Linked DNA regions of Homo sapiens: all the other regions are linked to region 1. Evidence: fine-mapped expression QTL. A gene starts in region 1. Each other region holds a variant in brackets. All regions are shown on one strand. Distances are between the middles of the regions.

What was found.
Region 2: its variant is fine-mapped to the expression of ATP2B4 in whole blood (TOPMed, PIP 0.98).
Region 3: its variant is fine-mapped to the expression of ATP2B4 in esophagus mucosa (GTEx, PIP 0.92).

The regions. Positions count from the first base shown.
Region 1 is chr1:203,625,138-203,627,898 of GRCh38, forward strand. ATP2B4 (ATPase plasma membrane Ca2+ transporting 4) reads left to right here and starts at 1,695. Exons shown (of 21, transcript NM_001684.5): 1 at 1,695-2,082. RefSeq lists enhancers at 689-1,563, 1,564-2,436.
Region 2 is chr1:203,742,571-203,745,331 of GRCh38, forward strand. It overlaps ATP2B4 (ATPase plasma membrane Ca2+ transporting 4), which reads left to right. Exons shown (of 21, transcript NM_001684.5): 21 at 1-1,511. It overlaps LOC102723543 (a long non-coding RNA gene), which reads right to left and starts at 1,989. Exons shown (of 2, transcript XR_426890.4): 1 at 1,635-1,989. The variant T/C (reference allele first, on the strand shown) is at 1,298.
Region 3 is chr1:203,548,366-203,551,126 of GRCh38, forward strand. No RefSeq gene overlaps it. Among named protein-coding and RNA genes, the nearest start is that of OPTC, 56 kb to the left of the region's middle. The variant T/C (reference allele first, on the strand shown) is at 1,701.

The sequences.
Region 1 (2,761 bases):
ATGGTGAAACCCCGTCTCTACTAAAAATACAAAAACAAAATTAGCCGGGCGTGGTGGCAGGGGCCTGTAGTCCCAGCTACTCGGGAGGCTGAGGCAGGAGAATGGCGTGAACCCCGGAGGCGGAGCTTGCAGTGAGCCGAGATCACGCCACTGCACTCCAGCCTGGGCAACAGAGCAAGACTCCGTCTCAAAAAAAAAAAAAAAAACCATAAAGAAAAAAGAAATAGCAGGGTAAGAAAATGAAGAGGAAAAAGAGGACCCAAATGAGAGAACATTGGGAAGGGTGCTAGTTGGACACGGGGGAAACTGGACCCCGTTTCACAACCCTGTTTCTCCATGCACATGTGGCTCTGCTTCTTGGGGGCAGAGATGACAGCAAAGAAGGACAGGGGGTGGTGTGAGCTGTTGGGTTAGAATGATAGGATCAAAGAGGCCTTTTCCCAACCCTCTGTTTAAAAGGTTGGGAAGTAGTGGCCAGTCACCTTCTTCACAGCATAGCTCATAGCTATAACCTGTGAGACATATGTCAATGTGCCTTCCATAAGCATATAAACATGAGTGTGTTTGCTGAGGTAGGTGTGGGAATCTGTCAGTCAATGAAGATATGTTGTGTGAACCAGCTGATGGTGCATGTTTGTGCTTGAAAGCCATAAAGTTCTATGCAAAATCTATGGGTGGCACTGTTGCACAATGCTAGTGGGTGTGTGGGTATGGGGGTGTGATTAACTGTTTACAGGCTGTGTATAAGTGTGCATGGATGTCTGAGTGTGTGCAAATTAAAACGGAAATATGTGCCGGAGTATGATACAAAGTACAGGAAAGTACTCGGGCTTTGGAGTCTGTCTGACTTGGTCTTGAATCGTTGGCTCTGTCATTAGCCGGATGTATAACCTTGGGCCAGACACTCAATCTTCAATTCCCTCAACTAGGAAATGAGGTTAATAATAAGTACCTTTCAAGATTAAATGAGGACTAGAAACGATACCATATAGACAAAGCTTTTGGTGTCATAGCCCACGCATAGCAGGACTCAAAAGTAAGCAGCTATTTTCATGCACTGTCAGTATACCTCTGGTGGGTACAGGGACAAGAGGGAACAAAATGTGACCTGTATATAAGGTGTAGGGGAGGACGGGTGTGTGTGTGTGTGTGTGTGTGTGTGTGTGTGTGTGTGTGTGTGTGTTTACAAAACAATTTATTCTCCTTCTCCAAGGAACCCCCTATTCAGACAGGAGCAGGAAGGTAGGAGGGGACATACAAGTGTCCACAGACACCTCGGGTTTCTGGGTCCTGGATCTAAGTGAGTAAGGGGTTGAGAGGCCCGTAGGAGCTGCAGGAAGCCAGCCGCCTGCCCAAGCTTCCTTTTTTTTCCCCTCCGCCCAGCAACCGTTGAATACCGCCACCCACATCCACTCCCCACCTCCACCCTCACCCCTCCTCCACCCCTACTCAGCTTTCTATTCAACAAGTGAGAGCAAGGGCGGGGAAGAAAGCCGACAGGGGAGAGGATTGCTTCCCTTTCTTTTCCCATTCCCCCTTAAGACGAACCAGGAAGTAACCGCAAGAATCGGGCCACCTTAACAGTAGAGTAATGGTTTGGCCTCGCGCCAAGTCCCACCTCTGTTCCAGCTCCTGCTCCTCCCCTCTCTCTTCCCGCACTGCTTGGGGAGAGCTGGTGAGCAAGAGTCTGGCCCGAGTTAGCTAGAGCTGTTGCCATGACAAGCATTTTCTTAAGAAAGCTCTGCTGTTGAGATCGTCCAAAGCTGGGGGCTGGGAGGGGGGGCACGAACTTCGTGGGGCACCATCCCTCCGAAGAGAGCAAGATCAGAGACACCCGCCCAGCTCTCCTGCACCCTTTTTCTTTCAGGAACCTGAGAGGTCCTTCCCATTGGAGGGGCAGGGGGAGGAGACCCAGCCCACTCCCCGGCCTTAGCCAGAAAGGCAAGAGAGCAAAGCCAGCGTCTCTAGCTTGGTTGCCACACTGGGGAGACTGGTGGGTGGTCACCCCACCCTACCCTCATCCATGGAAACCCGGAGGGAGAGTCCCGCCTGAAGAAACCTGGATCTTTGCTAGAAAGAGAGGTAGGCTTGCAGAGAATGAATTGACTTGTGATTTGCAAACTTTGTTTCTTTCTTTTCTCTCAATGGCTTCTAAAACTCCCCGATTTTCCTCTTTCTAGAATATTTCATGCGACTGGGTTTGGAGGATTTTTTTTAAAATATGTGTGTGTGCACAGATTTGTCAAATACTGTTTTACCTATTATCAGTTCTGAGAAACCATATAGTCGAACAAGTGATTTATCTCTCTTTTCCTAGTTCTTGTCATTCCTGGGCTATGGGGTAGGGTAATGGAGGGTTCTCTTTTTGACACCAAAATTGAGCTCTTGGAAAAAATATTTATCTCCCCTCCCTCAACCCATTCCGTTCCTGCCCTCCCCTTCCCCCCTTGGCTTGGGAATGAGACGCAGGATGGAAAACTGTTGCAAAAATATTTTCCGTGTCTGTTCCCTTTCTCGAAAGCCCAAAAGAGAGATGGAAAAAAAAAAAAAAAAGGAACCAAAGAAATCTTCAGCAGAAAGAGGGGCTGCAGCGGGAACTAGGAGAGGGGCACTTTGGGGCCATGGGGTGGAGGTGGGCTGGGAGAAGTTGGCAGGAGTGGGGAAGGAGAGTGCACGAATTAAATTTCTTTAGCTTTGCAGAGAAACCTCAGCAGTTTCTCTGTGCTGCTTGCAAAACATCCTCAGACTTTCACATGTATAA
Region 2 (2,761 bases), 120 kb after region 1:
CGGGTAGTAAACTGTGGATAGTCAGGAAAACACCCAGCAAGGGACACAGCTGTCAGGAAATGAATCTTCCCCCCAACCCCCACCATGCAGATGGATAGACAGAATCTTTCCTGACTAGTCATTAGGATCAGGGGCCTCTGTTGGATTTGTGTTTCTTGAAGAATAGCTGGCAGAGTGGTATAAAAGACACGAATATCTCCTGGTCTATAAGGATACTCTGATTTGGGGTTTGCATTTTTCATGGTTTTTATTTCCTGTTCCCCCTGGAGTTTTCCATTAGTGAGTTTTTGTGCAAGGATCTTATTTGTGATGCCTTCCCTCCCCTAGAAAGATTTTGTGCAATATATTAAATGGGGACAGAATTCTAAATGGATAAAACAATGGCTGGTTCTAGCCCTGAGTGACAGTCTTAAGGCTAGATCCTTCCCATAGTATCATCTGTCCTCTGGAATGACTCTCCTGTCCCTAAAGGGGTTAAGAGAGAGATCACCTAGAAATCCCTCTGGACACTTGTGGGTTCTTTAGGGTTTGAGTTTCTTCTTCCCCTTGAGCTTCAGAGAGGAGAGTTGGCATGGTTAAATCTGAATGGTTACCTCACTGCTGAAAACCCAGAGGGGCGTGGCACACTCGCTTGTGTGGAAAAGCCTCTAAATGCATCCCTTCCTTTCTTTCCTGCTTCCTTTGCCTTACAATTGAAGCAGCCCGTGGTACCATCACAGTATGCAGAGACTTCCTCACCTTTCATATCTAGGGACCACCCCCGATGCATTGGTGAGGGTGGGCACTTATAAATGCCTGCTATTGTTAAGCCATTCCAGCCTCTTCCTCTGAATAGACCAGACGCCCTTTCACTTAGTTCAGTGCCAGTCCTTTTGCCTTCCCAACCCTGCTGTTAGGCCTGCTGTTCCCTTTGCTCTTGATTAGGAGAGATGGAAGGAGATGAGCTCCCATAACTGAATTGGCCTTTGGTTCATGTTTTCTCCCCATATGTATATATGCCATATGTGAATATGCCATATATATGTGCCAACAAATCTATCTACGTTGTTCTTTTCAAATTAGCACGCAGATAGGAATTTTGAGTTTCTTCTTCTTTTAGTAACTAGTATAACAAGCACTGGTATTTTTGTACAAAAAAGAAAAACAAAAGATTGACTATTGTGGTCTGCATGACATAAACAAACAAATGGTGATATCAAAGCAACGTATACCCCAGTCCAGTGTGTGTTGCCATAATTTGCAATTCAGCTTAACAGTGCACCCAATCTATATTTGCATTTTGATATTATTTAAGCTC[T/C]ATGTACAAGGTTTTGCATGTATTTATATGGTTCTTAGGGAAAAAAAATGCTATAAACTGCAAATCTGAAATTCAAATGTGTTGTTCCACTGAGACCAGAAGAAGAAGAGGAGTTTTAAAAGGGATAATTTGTTGGAGCCAATAAAGCTTTTTGCTGATGAACAGAAACCAATACTGCTGTGCACTGAGAATAAAAACTCATGCCCACTTGTAACTGTGCTGTCCTCAATGCGTCTCCACTTTTGGGTAATGCCACTGATTGTCTGTTGAAGTTGAGAAGGGAAATGCCGCAACCACAAGGACAACCCCATTTAAACAGGCACAGAATTCAGCTTACCACCAGACTCTGACAACGCTTCCCTTCCCTCTGGGCCTTCGCATTGGCTTCATTCCCTTGCAGTGCAAGCTGTGCTCCACCCACCTTGGTTAGAATCCACAGTTCAGGAGCTGGAGCTTTTGGAAGAATAAGAAAGAGGCAGTCTTGGCAGTCCTTGCTTTTTTTCTTTCCTTTTTTTGTTTTTTGTTTTTTTTGGTTTTGGTTTTGGTTTGTTTTATATGAAATGTCTTTTAGGAGAAGTAGTTTCCCTTACATTAGCCGCCTTTCCCTTGGGTTCTCCACCCTCCCCCTCACTTCCCTATGGTTTAAAAAATGTCTTTCATTAATTGAGTCTTGCTAGAGACTCATATTAGGCCCCAGTTTCAGGTCAAAACAGCTTCCTGGCAGGTCATTTACATTCTGAGCTTTCATATCTGAGACAACTCCTTCCTGCAGCTCTCATCCAGGTGCACGACGAAGTTCCCCAACCCTCTTTTAAAATATCACAGGGAGGAGCCAGGCACAGTGGTTCACACCTGTTGTCCCAGCTACTGGGGAGGGGAAGGGGCTGAGGCGGGAGGATCGCTTGAGCCCAGGAGTTCAAGTCCAGCCTGGGCAACATGGCAAGACCCCATCTCTAAAATACACACACACACACACACACATCATAAGGAGGAAAGGACCTTGTCCACTCCCCAAATTCCTTTAGGAAAAGCATGACATTGAAGAACGCCCCAAACTCTCCTGGCTATTTTAATAGTCTGGCTCTGAAAGAGGATCTAGCCCTGGTTGAAAAAGACTTATGGCCGGGTGCAGTGGCTCACGCCTGTAATCCCAACAGTTTGGGAGGCCAAGATGGGTGGATCACCTGGGGTCGGGAATTCGAGACCAGCCTGACCAACATGGAGAAACCCCATCTCTTCTAAAAATACAAAAATTAGCCAGGCATGGTGGTACATGCCTGTAATCCCAGCTACTCGGAGGCTGAGGCAGGAGAATCACTTGAACCTGGGAGGCAGAGGTTGCGGTGAGCCAAGATCACGCCATTGCACTTCAGCCTGGGCAACAAGAGTGAAACTCCATTTCAAAAAAAAAAAAAGAAGGTCCGAGCGCAGTGGCTCATACCTATAATCCCAGCACTTCGGGAG
Region 3 (2,761 bases), 77 kb before region 1:
AGCCTGGCCAACATGGTGAAACCTCGTCTCTACTAAAAATACAAAAAATTAGCTGGGCGTGGTGGTGATCACCTGTAATCTCAGGAGGCTGAGGCACGAAAATCACTTGAAGCTGGGAGGCGGAGGTTGCAGTGAGCCGAGATGGCGACACTGCACTCCAGCCTCGGCAACAGAGTGAGACTTGGTTAAAAAAAAAAAAAAAGGAATTTTAAATGAGATAACATATTTGCATCTCGTAGCATAACAGTTGACACATCATTAATGAGAGAGAGAAGTGATATGGAATTTATTTTTAGGTCAACATGTCAGTAAATGATCAGGTTATTATTCAAGGAACAGAAGACAAGAAGACACACTCCCTAGGAAGTCCCAGCAAGAATATTCATGCAGGTAAGATAGCTGTGAGGAAACATTTCTACAAATCACAACTGTCCTGTCCACCCATTGTGCTATCAAAATTTCCGTTCAGAGAGAGACTTTCCTTATCATTGTTAGAAAAATCAGCATGCAAATGTGATGAGCATAGAAGAAACAAAGCTGGTGAAATAAACACATGCGATAAAAGGACAGAGAAAGCAGAATAAATGTAGGAAAGAATCTAATTCTCCAGAACTTCAGAGCCAAAAGGGGCCTCGGGGATCAGCTGACAAACCCCTTAGTAACAGAACCTTCCCAGCAGCCTTTATTTCCCCACATCTCTCTTACATTTTGCCAAAGATAATATTCACTTTGATGTTGCAAAAGCTTTAGTTTGCTTGTTGTGTTTCCTCTCTCCATAATGGTATGTTAGGCCATCCTTTTGTATTGGCAAATTGGTCTGACAAAAAGAGCATTATAAATTGTGAAAATACAAACAAATTCTCCCAGCTCTGAAATTCTCCTTGGACTTCAGTGGTTGACACAAATAATTTAGAGGTGATGGAGTTCCTTGAGTGCAGAGGGTGACAGAAGTTCATTCTTCCTCTGGCAAAGAGAGAGAGAGAGAGCTGTCTCCCTGCAGTTTGGGAGACTGGGCAACCACTCTCTAGGGATGCTACAGAGCTTGCTGTCCTCCCTCCTTCCAGACAGGTTGGCAGTCCTGCTGAAAGCTGACTCCTCTTTCCTGAAAGTCTATGGGGTGGGGGTGGGGTGGAGGAGTGCTATGCATCCAGGTGCCCCGCTCTGGTGTAACCTGAGACTAGAAGGCAACTATATTCCAGGCTTTTGAGAATACTGAGTCAGGGTAATGGGGATGACAGGACAAAGGCCAGGCAGGACATGCTGGAATTTGTTTTTGTTTTGTTTTGTTTTTTGAGACAGAGTTTCACTCTTGTTGCCCAGGCTGGAGTGCAGTGGCGCTATCTCAGCTCACTGCAACCTCCACCTCCCGGGTTCAAGTGATTCTTCTGCCTCGGCTTCCCAGGTAGCTGGGATTACAGGCGCCCACCATCATGCCCAGCTAATTTTTGTATTTTTATTTTTAGTAGAGATGGGGTTTCACCATGTTGGCCAGGCTGGTCTCGAACTCCTGACCTCAGGAGATCCACCCACCTCGGCCTCCCAAAGTGCTGGGATTACAGGCGTGAGCCATTGCACCCAGCCAAGTTCCACTGTTCTTGACAGCACCACCTTGAGCATGCCTTGCAGGGACCCTTTCCTGTGCTTCCCCACTGCTCTCCAGGAGCTGTCCTGGGCATAGACAAACAGAGCCAGTGCCATCT[T/C]CCCAGAGCCTCTTTAGAAGGACCCAACAGGATTTGCTCATATTTCATTCTCATCTGTTTAGAAAGGAAATCAAAACAACTGCACAGGCCACGTGCAATGGTTCACACCTGTAATTCCAGCACTTTGGAAAGCTAAGGCAGAGGAATCCCTTGAGCCTAGGAGTTCAAGACTAGCCTAGGTAACATAGCAGAACCCTGTCTCTACAAAAAACTTGAAAATGAGCTGGGCATGGTGGTGTGTGCCTGTGGTCCCGACTACTTGGGAGGCTGAGGCAGGAGTATCACTTGAGCCCAGGAGTTCAAGGAGGCAGTGAGATATAGTCATGCCACTACACTCCAGCCTGAGCAACAGAGTGAGATCCTGTCTCTAAGAAATAACTAAAAATAAAGTTTTTTTTAAAAAAACTGCATAATGCAAGGAGGCTACTTTTGAAGCAACCATGGTTGTTTCAGCGACCATGATCCTTATCATAAAGGCTCCCTTACTTTCCTACCTGGGCAAAAACCAGTAACCCAACCACAACCTTGCCTTCCATTCCGGCCAGCTGTGGAGTGAGAGATTCTCTAAGTTTCAGGATTTTCCAGTGAGCTGGTGGAAAAGATTCCTGATGTTTGGTGAGTTTCTGTCAAGAAATCAAATCATGGCTGGGCATGGTGGCTCACGTCTGTAATCCCCACACTTTGGGAGGCCAAGGTGGGAGGATCACTTGAGACCAGGAGTTCAAGACCACCCTGGGCAACATAGCAAGTCCTTGTCTCTACGAAAATAATTAAAAAGAAATACATTCATGATTTAAAAAAGAAGAAATCAGATCAGTCAAATGTGCACTACATTGCTCATCTCCATGCCCAGGGAGTCATTTATTAATTTTTTGAAAACATGATTGAGGTCCTACTCTATGCCAGTTGCTGGGTTAGATGCTGAGGAGACCAAGATGAGTAAGACACTGCTCCTCCTCACATCTTGGGAACAGAAACTTAACAGCTGACTCCAATATGATAAAGTGTTGCGACTTGTATTTGGTTTCAACCCTTGGGCAAAAAGAACTTAGTAGTTCATG